Linked DNA regions of Homo sapiens. The protein of the gene in region 1 purifies or fractionates together with the protein of each later gene. This does not show direct contact. Each region holds a gene or a part of one and is shown in the gene's direction. Other genes may lie near its edges.

What was found. Proteins that work in one complex are often made in the same cells at the same time.
Region 2: the proteins of SUB1 (region 1) and PRCC purify together in Homo sapiens (affinity purification with mass spectrometry, with the first as the bait; one large-scale study listed by BioGRID). This does not show direct contact.
Region 3: the proteins of SUB1 (region 1) and COPZ1 purify together in Homo sapiens (affinity purification with mass spectrometry, with the first as the bait; one large-scale study listed by BioGRID). This does not show direct contact.
Region 4: the proteins of SUB1 (region 1) and SBNO1 fractionate together in Homo sapiens (co-fractionation; one large-scale study listed by BioGRID). This does not show direct contact.

Annotation. Positions count from the first base shown.
Region 1 is NC_000005.10:32,595,557-32,599,056, forward strand, and holds part of SUB1 (activated RNA polymerase II transcriptional coactivator p15), read left to right. Parts: intron 1-3,404; coding exon 3,405-3,500.
Region 2 is NC_000001.11:156,798,535-156,801,315, forward strand, and holds the end of PRCC (proline-rich protein PRCC), read left to right. Parts: intron 1-1,839; coding exon 1,840-1,926; 3' UTR 1,927-2,281; downstream 2,282-2,781. UniProt on the Homo sapiens protein: May regulate cell cycle progression through interaction with MAD2L2.
Region 3 is NC_000012.12:54,349,131-54,352,346, forward strand, and holds the end of COPZ1 (coatomer subunit zeta-1), read left to right. Parts: intron 1-489; coding exon 490-528; intron 529-1,345; coding exon 1,346-1,393; 3' UTR 1,394-2,716; downstream 2,717-3,216. UniProt on the Homo sapiens protein: The coatomer is a cytosolic protein complex that binds to dilysine motifs and reversibly associates with Golgi non-clathrin-coated vesicles, which further mediate biosynthetic protein transport from the ER, via the Golgi up to the trans Golgi network.
Region 4 is NC_000012.12:123,362,048-123,366,207, reverse strand, and holds the start of SBNO1 (protein strawberry notch homolog 1), read left to right. Parts: upstream 1-1,360; 5' UTR 1,361-1,507; intron 1,508-4,160. UniProt on the Homo sapiens protein: Plays a crucial role in the regulation of neural stem cells (NSCs) proliferation. Enhances the phosphorylation of GSK3B through the PI3K-Akt signaling pathway, thereby upregulating the Wnt/beta-catenin signaling pathway and promoting the proliferation of NSCs.

The DNA of each region.
Region 1 (3,500 bases):
CACCTTGGGTGGACATTGGGATTGTATCAAGTCTTGGGCTATTAGGAATACAACTGCTGTGAATATTCTTGTACAAGTCATTTTGTGGACATTTTTTCCCTTTTGGGTAAATACCAGATACATTTGCTGAGTCGTAGGGTAAATGTGTAACTGTATAAGACACTGTCAAACCATTTTCCATAGTAGCTGTAGCATTTTACACAGCCATCGGTACTACTTAGGAGATTCCAGTTGCTCCACATCCTCGCTAGATATTGTCAGTCTTTTAAGTTTTTTTCTTTTTAGTTACATTGAATGTATAATGGTAGCTCATGGTGGTTTTACTTTCCATTTCCCTCATGTACATGTCTTAATTCATTGTACATCTTTAGTGTGTTTATTGGTTATTTTTATATCTTTTGTGAAGAGTATCTTTTGGCCACTTAAAATGCCAGGTCATTTGAGTTGTAACACTTTATATATTTTGTCAGATGTAAGTATAATTAATATTTTTTTTAGACTTCAGGGAAACTTTAGTTTTCAAAGCAATCTAGTTCAAAAATGAGTGGAGGTTAACAGAGAGGAAAATATGAAACCAGAGAGAATCAAACAGACAGAATAAGGGGGGACTGGCAGTTGGTCAGGGGCGTCTGTGACAGATCTTCTCTCTCTTGGAAATGAGGTCCTCACGGATTCTGGTCAGTTCATCATTTTCTTCACGTCCACGGTTCTGCTTCTTCCTCAGGCTCTCCTCGAAGGCCAAGACCCCTGTGGCTCCAACTTGAGTGAATATTTTCTTTAGGTTTCTGGTTTACCTTTTTATTTTCTGAAGCATCTTTTTAAAAAAGGCTTTAGTGTGATTGTCTATTCTATCGATTTTTCTCCTTTTTTGCTTAATGCTTATTTTCTGTCCAAGACGTATTTTGCCTACCATGGCCACAAAAATTTTTGCCAGTGTTTTTTCCTAGAAGTTTTATAGTTTTAGTTTTCACATTTAGGTCTATAATTCATGTAGAATTAATTTCTCTGTGTATGATGTAAGATAGAGATTTAGAGTCTTCCCCACCCCAAATGCAGATAGCCTGTTGTTTCAACACCATTTGTTGAAAAGAGTATTCTTATTCCTTTGAATTACCTTGGATTTTACCCCCTCCCCCCAAAAAAATCAGTGAATATATCCAATGCGTGTGTATTTTTTGACTCCGTTGTGTTCCACTGACCTCTTATGTCTGTCTTTACTCCAGTACTGCATTGTCTTCCCTTACTATATTATAGTGAGTCTTGGAAAGTGCTAAGAGACACTTTGTTGAGGAAAGCCTGTTCTTTTCTCTGGAATTTGTAATTTGTGGTAAGCAGATATATAAGATTTTTGAAAAATAATTTTCTGTGAATATTTTTAAGTTCTCAATCTGACTGTGAGTGAGGTGCATTAAAGATGTTATTTGAAGTGAACATGAAAAGGAAAAACTTGGTTGTTATTGACTGGAACTCTGGATTCGTATATTCAGAATGGTTGGTGAAGCAGTGTAGCTAGTTGCATCTGTGGATTCCTCTTGGTTGTAGTTTGTACTGCAAAATATTGCTTCCTAATGATTTTTTTTTTTGCTGGTAAAAACCATAAAAGTATATTCACATTGTTGTGAAACAGATTGCCGAAACTGTTTCATCTTGCAAAACTGAACCTCTGTGGCCATTAAACAACAGTTCCCCTTCTCCCAGCCCTGGTAACCACCATTCTACTTTTTGTTCCTGTGAACTTGACATCATGTAAGTGGAATCATAAAGTATTACCTTTTTCCTTTTTATGACTGGCTTATTTCATTGACGTAGTATGTAACAGGATTTCCTTTTTTAAAAGCTAATTGATATTCCATTGTGTGTCTATTCCACCCCCCCTCTCCCATTTTGTTTATCAGTTCATCTCTGGGTGGATATTTGTGTTGTTTCCACTTCTTGGCTCTTGTGAATAATGCTGCTATGAACATGGGTGTGCAGATGTCTCTTGGAGTCTGTGCTTTCAATTTTTTGGGATATATATTCAGAAGTAGGATTGCTGGATCATATGATAGTTTAAACAGCAATTTCCTTTGGTTGCAGTTTTGATACTGAGAGTAGTACAGTTGACCCTTGAACAATGCAGGGTCAAAATGCAAGGCACCAACCCCTGTGCAGTTGAAAATCTGGTTATAACTTTTGACTTTGTCAAAACTGCTAAGTATAGCCTACTGTTGACTGGTAGCCTTAACAGTAACATAAACAGTTAACATATATTTGTATGTTATATGTATTATATACTGTATTCTTACAATAAAGTAAGCTAGAGAAAAGAAAATATTACTAAGAAAATCATAAGGGAGAAAAATTACATTTTACTGTACTGTATGGTGTTTATCAATAACATTAGTTTACGTTGTCTGTTTATAAGATATGTCATCTGTTAATAAAATATGTCATCTGTTAGAAATTGTAGGCAACCACAGCTGCAGATTTCAGTCCGTGGTACATATCAAGCAATTCAACTTTTTTATTTTTATTTTTATTTTTATTTTTTTGCATTTTAAAATTAAAGACAGGATCTTGCTGTGTTGCCCAGATTGGATTCAAGCTCCTGGGCTCAAGTGATCCTCCGGCCTCAGCCTCCTGAGTAGCTGGGATCATAGGCATGCACCACTGCTTCTGGCAGTTTTTTTCTTGTGATGTCATGCCTTCTCTCTGCTTCTTGGGAGCACTTTCAGCATCACTAGGGGCACTTTGTATAGGACTCATGGTGTTATTTAAAGTTTATGGTATTGCAGTAATCATGATGAAAAATAATGTGAAAACCGTGAGAGATCACTTTTTACTGCAATACGCAATTTGTTGGAGACATGAACTGCTCAGCAGAGATGATTAGCATCACATGGTGTTTTACACAAGGTGTTTTAAGCAGATACTTGTAACATTTGAGTACACTGAGATAACAGGAAGTGGCTATGAAGTTAACACTAGTACACTACTGTAGTTAATTTTATGCAGTTATGAATTAATACTCCATCTTTGTTTACATTTCTCTCTAACTTCATATAATAGATTTGTATGTTTTATGATAGTAAGTGATAAAATAACCTCATATCTAGGTATGTTTTATGCATTCATGACATACCTAACTTTTTCTTAATGTTTTCGTTATTTCTAGGCTATGCAGTTGTTCTGTGAGTTTTTTCAAATTGTCAAGTCTGCAAAAATTTTTCCAGTATATTTATTGAAAAAAATATGCATATAAGTGGGACCTGCACAGTTCAGAGCCATGTTGTTCAAGGGTCAGCAGTAGTCATTTTCATGATTAGATGTAGAGTGAGCATGCAGCAAGTTGTGAATATGAATACAATTGAAACAGATACCACTCTTGAAAGGAGCACCTCTTTTTATGTTTGTTTCTTTTGCAGATTGGGAAAATGAGGTACGTTAGTGTTCGCGATTTTAAAGGCAAAGTGCTAATTGATATTAGAGAATATTGGATGGATCCTGAAGGTGAAATGAAA
Region 2 (2,781 bases), on another chromosome or scaffold:
AGCAGCACTTCGTATGGGTCTTATGGTGTTAAGATTTATGGGCTGGGTATGGTGACTCACGCCTGTAATCCCAGCACTTTCGGAGGCTGAGGCGGGCGGATCACGAGGTCAGGAATTCGAGACCAGCCTGACCAACATGGTGAAACCCTGTCTCTACTAAAAATACAAAAAATTAGCCAGGCGTGGTGCCTGTAATTCCAGCTACTCAGGAGGCTGAGGCAGGAGAATCGCTTGAACCCGGGAGGTGGAGGTTGCAGTGAGCTGAGATCGCGCCACTGCACTCCAGCCTGGGTGAGACTCCATCTCAAAAAAAAAAAAAAAAAAAGATTTATGACATTGTACGCAATGAAAAACACGAGAACTGAGAGAGCACATTTTACTGTGATATGCAACATACTAGAGAGACAAGCAGCTCCCGTGGAAATGATTAGCATTACGTGGTGTTTTAAGCAGGTACAATACTTGAGCTCACTGCAATAGCAATAAGAGGTGGCTGTGAAATTATGACAGTACAGTGTGTACTACAGTGAATTTTATGCAGTTAAGATTTAATGCTGTATCTTTTTGTTGATGTTTCTCTTGACTACAAATGGCACCATGTATGATCTGTATTTGTGTGTGTACATTTTGATAAATTTTAACTTTCTATAGATTTGTGTATATTTTATGGTAGTAATGATAAAAATAGACTAGTACCTACATATATTTTATGCATTCACAACATACCTTTTTCTTAGTTTTTTTAGTATTTCTAAGTTACACAGTTTGTGTTTTCAAGTTGTCACGAATTTCCAAAAAAGTTCTAATATATTAAATATTTATTAGAAAAAAACCCATGTATGAGTGGACCTGTGCAGCTCAAACTCATGTTAAGGGTCAACTGTATTTAGTCATTAAATATCTTTTTAAGACTTATTGAACTAAATGGTGTCAAAGATACAGACATGAATAAGACCCTTTCCTGGCCCCTTTCCTGGGAAGTGTACATTCTGGTTGGTGATTTCATGGCAAATCTTGCTTTCATTGTTTTTGTCATATTTTCACCTTCCTTTCAGGAACTCCTTTGTACTCTTTCCCTGTCTTGTGGTTTGTAGGGAAAGGATTTGAGAGTAGGATATTATTTAAACTCAATCTCTTAACCCCCACCCCAAATTCCAAAGGAGATGAGCAGGCATCAGATAACTTTTGGAGGGTCTTGAGAATCCCCTTTCTAGGGTGGTACTTCTACATTCCAGAATGTGGTATAGAGCCAGGAGTTGTTGAGATCAGAAGAAAGAAGTCATTCTTGTACCTCTCAGTTTTTCACAGCTTCAGTCATTACTTTAAAATCCTTTGAATTTCTAAGGTACCACACACTGTATTCAACACAACTGCAAAACTGTATCTCCAGGCTAAGCAATTGTTTGTTGGTGTTCTGTTTTGACTGGTCCAGAGGAGCCTTTGAGACTGTCCTCTCCTACTCTGCCGGCTGGGTGTCTAAGAGAGCTGATTGTCTTCCTCTCTAAGAGAGCTGATTTTCTTCCTTTTAGATGCTAAATTCTAGTTTTCATTTGCCCATTTCCTATTTCACCTTTTGAGTTTTAATTCTACTAGAGGAAGCACCAGGATTCTTGAGTCTTTATTTTGCTTAAACCTTGATAACTGTCCAAAGAAATGATTTTTCTTTGCTTTCTTGGGGCCTTTCCCTTTTACTTTGATAAGTCTTTCAAGGGGTTTGCAGTTCCCCCATAATCGTTTTGATAGGAGAAAGATTTTAAATTGGGAAGCTCACAGAGGCAAGAGGACAGCGTTTCTCAGAATTCCAGTTTGACCCTCCCCTACCCTTCTTCCTTGCCACAGGCCAAGGAGCGGGAGCTGGAACTGAAGAACACCTGGTCAGAGAACAAGCTCAGCCGCCGTCAGACCCAAGCCAAATATGGATTCTAGGGCTCTGGAACTGATTGCTCCCAGGATCTCCTGCCAGCCCAGCTGGCCTGGCCCCCAGCTTCACCTCTGGGACCCCAGCTGCTCTAAGCCCAGGATCTCTTTCCCCAAGGACCCAGCCCTCGCCTCTGCGAGAATGAACATATTTGATAGATTTTTCTTAACAAGTTAGAAAATTCAGCTCCTTTCTGTCCTGGAGCTAGCAAAGACTTGTGTGATGCCTCCGAAGGGGCTCTGAGTTCTGGGGTGGGAGTTTTGCTCTCTGTCAGGTGTGATAAAATGTTGAACCCTCCCCACCACCACTTTTTTTTTTTTAAACCAGGGATGTCTGTTGAAATAAAACATTCAGTCTGACAAACATTGCCTGCCCTGTCCCTGGATTTGTGTTTACCTTGTGTAAAGCACCTTCCAAATGATCTTGAGCTGCCTGATTGCTTTGCTATTTTTCCTCTCTATCCACCATCTAGCTGGGTTTGTGGCCATTGGAAACCCTAGAAATGGTATGCACAACTTTATATGAGGCAGGATGATTTTCAGAGAGGCCTGTGATCCCAAATATGTATTGCTAATCTCAGGTACCTCTGGAGACTGGGTGAAGTCAGGAGGTTTTTTCTGTAGTACAAAATAGTGTCAGGCATAAAAATCCTATCCAGCAGGAGGTAAAGTGGCAAAATCCCTGTCCCTGAAGATGATTCAGATTGACGCTGGTAGTCACTGGTCTGGATCAGTTTGGAAGCTTCACATTGAACTTGGGTGCTAGAGAGATACCCTTGGAGACTTCCAGAGCCCTAGCCTTCATTGAAGAAAGGAGGTACAGGGTCTGTAGACTCCAATTATCTGTAAGGCACTGTGACGCCC
Region 3 (3,216 bases), on another chromosome or scaffold:
CCCATCAACTCCCCGCTTTGTCTTCTTAGGCTGCTGTTGCAGCAGTTTATTTCTTCAAATTAACATGCTGTCGTTACCCATCAGGCTTTGCGGGATCCATTAAACCACTCCTGGCTCCCCCTCATCCTTTCCCTAGTGATACTGATATTCAGAAAAGGCCTTTTCTGACTAGGGAATCAGGTCCTCCACCCCCACGTTAAGGGAGTTGAGGATCAGATAACCTGCTGGTTACTCTGAATGGAGTTAAATCTTTTAAGAAGTCCTCCTGCCTTAAAATGGAAGCTGGATGAAATGACCCTTTTTTGTTCATAGTCCCTCTGGCCAAGTAAAATTGTAGCTGTACTAGTCCCTAGAAGGGACTGAGAAGTTCAGTGCATCTGCCCTTTGTTTCAGTTTAAAGGATCACTTTTTTCTTCTCTAATACCAGACTCCAATCAGGTCTTACTCCAGCTTTCTCCCACACTAAATGCTTGTATCTCTGTGCCATAGGGTGAAGATGTCCCCCTTACGGAGCAGACCGTGTCTCAGGTATGACTCTCCCTTCTTCCTTTCCAGATGGACTGGGTCACTAAAGAGGCTAGAACAGCATTCCACCCATACCTCTCAAATCTGAGTGAAACTAGAGACTCAAGACACATCTTCCTTGGCTCCCTCTTATTCCAGAGAACTGGGACTCATACAGCCAGCCACTCCCTACCCCTACTTCCAACTCCTTTCTCAGTTACCTGTGAGCAGTGGCTGTCAGCCTTGCTCTGTACCCTTCAAACCCTCCCTGCCTGCCTGATGCCTCATTCAGTGATTTATTCCCCAGCAGAGGCTTGCCTTAAGCAGATGGTCTGTGTGCATTTGTGCACACACACTCTCTTTCTCTTATTATTCAATTGAGGGCTAAGCTGGAAATGCATATTCTAGAATATGCAGGTTTTGCAGATCCATCTTGCTACCTTGACTGCAGATAGATTGTCTACCTGATGTAGGGGGAAGGGAGGGGTTCCGTTTTCTACCCACTTGGAATTCTCACCAAGAAGTCCATCTGGATTTGTTACCCGCCCCCTGCCCGCCGCCCCTTTTAACATATGTCCAGTAACTCCCTTTTTTTTTTTCTTTTATACCAGGTATACCTCTTCTCTCTTCATCCCCTCAGTGGGTTTGAATTTTTTTGGAATTTTCCAAACAATCTGCTAGGGCCTTAGAGAGCTTCTTCCCATCTCTTTACCCTTGGGGATTTTCTATTCTCCATTCTTCTAAGGACAGGGAAGACAAGTGAGGGGAAGGAGATCCCCAGCCCTCATCCTTACCCTGCCCTGTCAGCAAGCTTTCCTCAATGCTGCTCTTATCTCTGCAGGTGCTGCAGTCAGCCAAAGAACAGATCAAGTGGTCACTCCTTCGGTGAAGACCTCACTGTTCCTGGCTCTTCATCCTCTTCAAAAAATTTGCATGTCTGCTGTGAATTTTCATCTAGTTCCCCAATCGATGCTCTCAGGGTCATCTCGGGGATCACAGGGATCCTTAAATCTCCATTCTGTTTGTGGTTGCCCCCTCAACCTCCCCTACACCCTTCCTATTCTTTTTCATTCTTCTTGCAGTTCTGGGAGTAAAGCTCCCAGCATATTTAGATAATAGGGCAGGGGAAGCACCCTCTTTCTTTCTAGACTGGATTATGCTCACATGCTCCCTTGCCCTGACATTTTTGTAAATTCTGTGCCCTTTGCTGTAGCTACACTTCAGATTAAAGTAGGAGAAAGAATGTGCTGAGTGTTTTCCTCCCTTTGCCTCTACCTGGCCCTCATCCCAACAGCCCAGCAAGGGGAGAGAGAAAGAGAATTCTTTTCTATAGAACGAGTGGGGGCGGGGATGGGTAGGGATTTATCCAATCTAAGCCCTAACCCCACTTAGTGACCTCAGTGTTTTCTTCCATTCCTTCTTACTGCCCTGTCCTCTGCCTTGGAAGAGGCTTTGGGAATAGTTCATAGGGAAGGGACAACATGGAAGAAACAGCGATTTAAATTGTATTGAACAGGGCATATAAAATGCATTCTGTACCCTGATCTGGCATATAGCTTCAAAACTGCAGTGGCGAGTGTCCATCTCTTAGTTAGCTACCTTAACTGTCCACCCTTACTACCTGTGGGATCGTTGCCTGGTTTGTCTTCTCTGTGTCCTGGAGCAAAGCCAGTTCCTAAAACTAAAACTCCATTCTAGTCTTGGGAAGAAAAGTTTCTACTCAGAACTGGGGAAGGAGTGGAACTTATGACTTGGGCCTCTAGGCTGTCTCTGTCCCCTCAGCTCCCCGACATGCATTTACTCTCTGCCGTGGGTCTGCAGTCGCTGCAACCTACCCTCTCTCTGCCTCAGCCTTACACCCAAGCAGTAGGTCTGTGCTCTCCCTGTCTCTAGGTCGCTGAGAGAGGTGCTTTTCTTCATAAAACCTTTGGGGTTTGGATTTCCCCAGGAAGATGGAGAATGGAATACTCACTCTTGGGTCTAATCTTTCCCCTTGACCCAGAACTTCCTCCCCACAAAAATGCCTTTAAAAACCTTCCTGAGACTTAAGCATTCTGCCCCACTTACTAACTGCCAGTTCTCCAGCACTGAGGTGGGGCAGATAACGGGGCATATTTAAGGGGGCATCTTTGTGTAAAAGATGCATGGAGTCAGGAGAAAACCACCTTCATAAACTGCTCTGTGCAAAGAGGAATAAAACATTTTTTCCAAACTGCCTTTGTGTGATGTTTCTGTTTCTCTTCCTCTCTTTTTGGCAGCTACTCCTGTTCCTCCAGCCCCCCGTCATTCCCCATCTTATAATATTTCTTCCCTCCTACCTCAGAGACTCCTAGCAGTGCCCCCCCATCCCTAATTTACGGGGCTGTTTGCCTCCTTGGCATCTCTCCGTCCCCTCGCCTGGAAATTGGCGCCAGGGGTGGGGTGGGGATGGTATTTTCTCAGTGGGAGTCCCAGGGAACTGAGTTCTTCCCCCATCACCCCCAAAGCCAGCTGCCTGCTCCCGCCTCAGCCATTAGTAACCCAGAGACGCGCACCTGCGTGGGGGCTCTTCTCCAGCCCTTGCTCACTTCCTGCACCTCCCACTCCTGCTCTGAAACGGCGCTGAGCGGGTTATTTATCGGAGCCAGCGCTGCTCCAGAAGGTCAGGACGGTGGTGTAAATAACCTCTTCTCGCCATTTCCCCGTCCCTCCAGAGCCTGCTCCCCTCCCCCT
Region 4 (4,160 bases), on another chromosome or scaffold:
AGTGCTGGGATTACAGGCGTGAGCCACTGCGCCCGGCCTAAAATATTTTTTATTTTTGTCTTTATAGGTTTTTTTTCTATGTGTGTGAGAGGATTAAATGAAATAATGTAATTAGTAAAGCGATTAGTTAGCACTTTAAAAATATTTATAAATGTATACATAGATATATAATACATATCTATGTGTACAAACACTGAAGTTTCCTATTCTTTCTGTGCCTACTTTTTCCTTTCTTTCCCCGAATACTTTGTCTCTGGAAGAGTTCACACTGTAACCTCCAACTGTTCCAGCTACTTGGTTTGCTTTCAGCACTAGGCTTGTAGGATGCGCAGCCAGTAGGGGGCAAGAATCACCCAGGCGTGCTTATTACCCAAGCAACGGAGTCAAACAGCACTTTCAGAATGACTTTACAAAAGGGTTACCAACAAGGTAATATGTTTATTGTGTTAGGTCGCTTAATAATAACGAAAAGATGAAAACAAGGAAGTGAGAAGCGGTAGGGACAGCCCTACTCTTCAGTATTCATTAAGTGGGAGCCCCGGTGTGTCGGGCTTGCGTATGAGCGTGAAGACAGACGTGGGATGGCTGAGCTCACACGCCTTAGGCTCTGATTCTAGCCGTGGTCGCGCCGAGGGCTCCGGGTTACTTGCGGTTTCACTGCCAATAAAGTGCTTTGAGCGAGCCTAACAAGCAATGAATATGTAAACATTTTGTTTCTAGGACTAACTAGGTAATGAAGAGATCTTCCAAGTGACAGAAACGCTGCTAGGTAACTTCCTGGGCCGTAGCTCCCCACCCTAACAGGTTCTGAAAATAGCTCCAGGCCCTTCCTAACCGGAGTTTGAAAGCAGGCGCGGGGCGCATGCGCGCGGCCCTCCGGCCGACCTCCCGATAGCCCTGGCACGCGGACCTTCTTCCCGACAGGCCGCGGGGAAAAAAGGGCGGGGAAACGGAATTACCGCGAGCTCTCCGTGAGCGCCGGCGGAAACAGTAGTCACGTGACTCTCCTAGGTGGCCTTCGCCTTCCCCCTCCCCCTTCGCGGAAACCCGGCCCCCTCACCCCTCGCCCACCCCAGAGCCGCGGTAATGGACCGTTTGGGTTCCGGAATTCTCTTGGATCCAACAACTGGTACCGGGCCGAGGATAGCCGGCGGAGTCCGTTTTTGGCGGCGAAGACTGGGGGGTGGTCAAGATGGGGGGGAAATCATCTTCCTTCACCTAGGAGGGAGGCGGGGCGGAGAGGGGCGCAGAGAGGCGGGTGGGGGAGGAGGGAGGAAGTCACGTGAGGGCGCTGCGTGCGCGCGGCGCCTCATCCGTTGCCCCTCCCCCGCCCCTCCCGGCGGGGCGGGGGGGCTGGGGGAGGGGCGTCAAGATGGCGGCGGGGAGGTAGGCAGAGCAGGACGCCGCTGCTGCCGCCGCCACCGCCGCCTCCGCTCCAGTCGCCTCTGGTCCTTCAAACTCACACCTCCCGGGAGGAGCTGTGCTGGCGCCGGGTCCCGCGGGGAAAGTAAGTCCTTCCCTTGGCCCTTTTCTCCTTCCACACTCCCCCTCCCGGACAGCCTCCCACTCCCACCCTCGGGGGGCCGTGCGGGGCCAGGCTGGGGGGACAGCCACCTCGCCCCGGCTTGGGGCCTCCCTCGCCGCTTGCCGCTCCTCGCGGCCGCGCGCTCCGGGGCCCTCGGGGGCATGTTCCCGACGGCGGCTCCGTTGTACTCGCTTCCTCTGTTCGTCAGCGCCGGGCCCCGCTGTCGCCGCTCGTGGGGCTTTCGGGCTCCGGGAGCCCCGCTGTCCCGGGCCGGAGGCACCCCTCTTGGACCGCGGGGCAGGGTCTGTGCACGCCGGCTCCGCTGGGTTCGCCCCTTTGGCTTCCGCCTCACAACCCGGGGGCTGCGGGTCCGGGACCCGCGGGGAAAGTAAGGACCGGATCCTTCCCAAGTCCTCTTTCGTGCCCCAGCATTGCTCCCGGCTCTGGGCGAGGGAGGGAGGCAGGCGACGCGGTCGTCCTTCCTAAATCTGAACCCCACAGCGCGGTCTCGTACATGCCCCGCTCTTGGGGCGGTGGGGAAGCCGCGGGGGACACGTGCAGGCTCCCTTCACGCCTCTCCAGGCGACTCGCTTAGTTCTGCCTCGGCGGGCGAGCTCACCTCCCAGACCCTAAGAATTACCCATGGAGGGGAACGGCAGTTGGGGATTTGCTTACTTTGAGAGCGTTTGGCATAACGAGCATCCAGAGTTCCCCAAAGCAGTGGATACCGGTGGTTTCCCAGAAGTGGTTTGGGGTCGGTTTAACCGCTGAGGAGATTTGGATGTTCCTAAACCCTTCTGATTGTTTCTTTCCTGACCCTGGCATCCAGCTCCTCCCCTTCCCACCCCTGCTTTGTGCTTCTGTTTGGTTAATGTTTGCGGACCACTAACTTGATCCTCGCACAGAGAAGCTCTTTTTATGTGCGTGCTCGGTTTACTGTGGGAGGCTTTTGTTTTGGGGAGTCGCTGGTTGAGAAACGTGGGAAAAGAACGGGCCAGAAAATGAGAGACAAATAAAGCAACGTTTTTATCCATTGAATTGCGCAGCCAATTGTAAGTGCACCCGGAAGTTTGTACTGAACACGTGTTGAGGGAAGGTTATAAACTGGTCCCCTTTGACCTTTGAAAGTTGGCTATTATCATTTTATGTTGAGTTAAATGTTTCATATATTCTAGACAGCCAGAATTAGGGATGGAATATGGTTTCTAAAGAGTCATCCAGAAGGGTGCAGAGAACTGTCATCCGGAGTGCCCTAGCAGGAATTGACTTAACACTTTCAGATAATTCTGCGAGCTGACAGTACAGAGGGATTCTATTTTCCACCATATTTTCTAGCAATCAGAATTGATTTTCATAAGCGTAGGGAAAGCTATCATCGTTGCACAGAAGATAGCAGAATTTCCTACTGGTGACTTGAGTGGGACATTAATTTTGCAAGCAAGGGAACATTTTCTCTCATCTTTTAAAGAAGTTGTTTCCAAAATTTTTCCGATGGGAGACGACTTTACTTTTTTTCTCTGGCTTCTGCTTTTTATCTTCCATTCCAACTTATTCCATATAATTGCGTTTGGAATATTTATGCTATTTTTAAATTTTTGAGACAGGGTCCCACTCTGTTGCTCAAGCTGAAGTGCAGTGACGTGGTCATAGCTCACTGCAGCTTGAACTCCTGGGCTCAAGCGATCGTCCCACTTCAGCCTCCGGAGTAGCTGGGACTACAGATGTGCACCACTACAGCAGCTAATTTTTTTTTTTTTAATTTTTTTGTTGAGAGGCGGGGGTCTCACCATGTTGGGAGGCAGCTACTGGCCTCAAGCAATCTTCTGGCCTCCGCTTCCCGAAGTGGTGGGATTACAGGCATGAGCCATTGTGCCTGGCCCCTTCAGAATCTTTTTTTTTTTTTTTTTTTTTTTTGAGGCGGAGTCTTGCTGTGTTGCCCAGGCTGGAGTGTAGTGGTATGAACTCGGCTCACTGCAACCTCTGCCTTCAGGGTTCAAACAATTCTCCTGCCTCAGTCTCCCTAGTAGCTGGGATTGCAGGCATGTGCCACCACACCTGGCTAATTTTTTTTTATGTAGTTGGCAGAAAGGGGTTTCACCATGTCGGCCAGGCTGGTCTCACACTAGTGACCTCAAGTGATCCACTCACCTCTGTCTCCCGGAGTGCTGGAATTACAGCCGTGAGCCACCGCCCTTGGCCCCCCCGTCAGAATCCTTTTTTTTTTTTTTTTTTTTTTTTTTTTTTTTTGAGACGGAGTCTCGCTCAGTGGCCCAGGCTGGAGTGCAGTGGCACGATCTCTGCTCACTGCAAGCTCCGCCTCCCGGGTTCACGCCATTCTCCTGCCTCAGCCTCCCAAGTAGCTGGGATTACAGGTGCCCGCTGCCACGCCCGGCTAATTTTTTGTACTTTTAGTAGAGACGGGGTTTCACCATGTTAGCCAGGATAGTCTCGATCTCCTGACCTCGTGATCCGCTTGCCTCGGCCTCCCAAAGTGCTGGGATTGCAGGCGTGAGCCACCACGCCCAACAGAATCTTTTTTTTTTGAGGTGGAGTCTCGCTCTCTCGCCCAGGCTGGAGTGCGGTGTCATAACCTTGGCTCACTGCATTCCTCTGCCTCCTGGGTTAAAACGGTTAT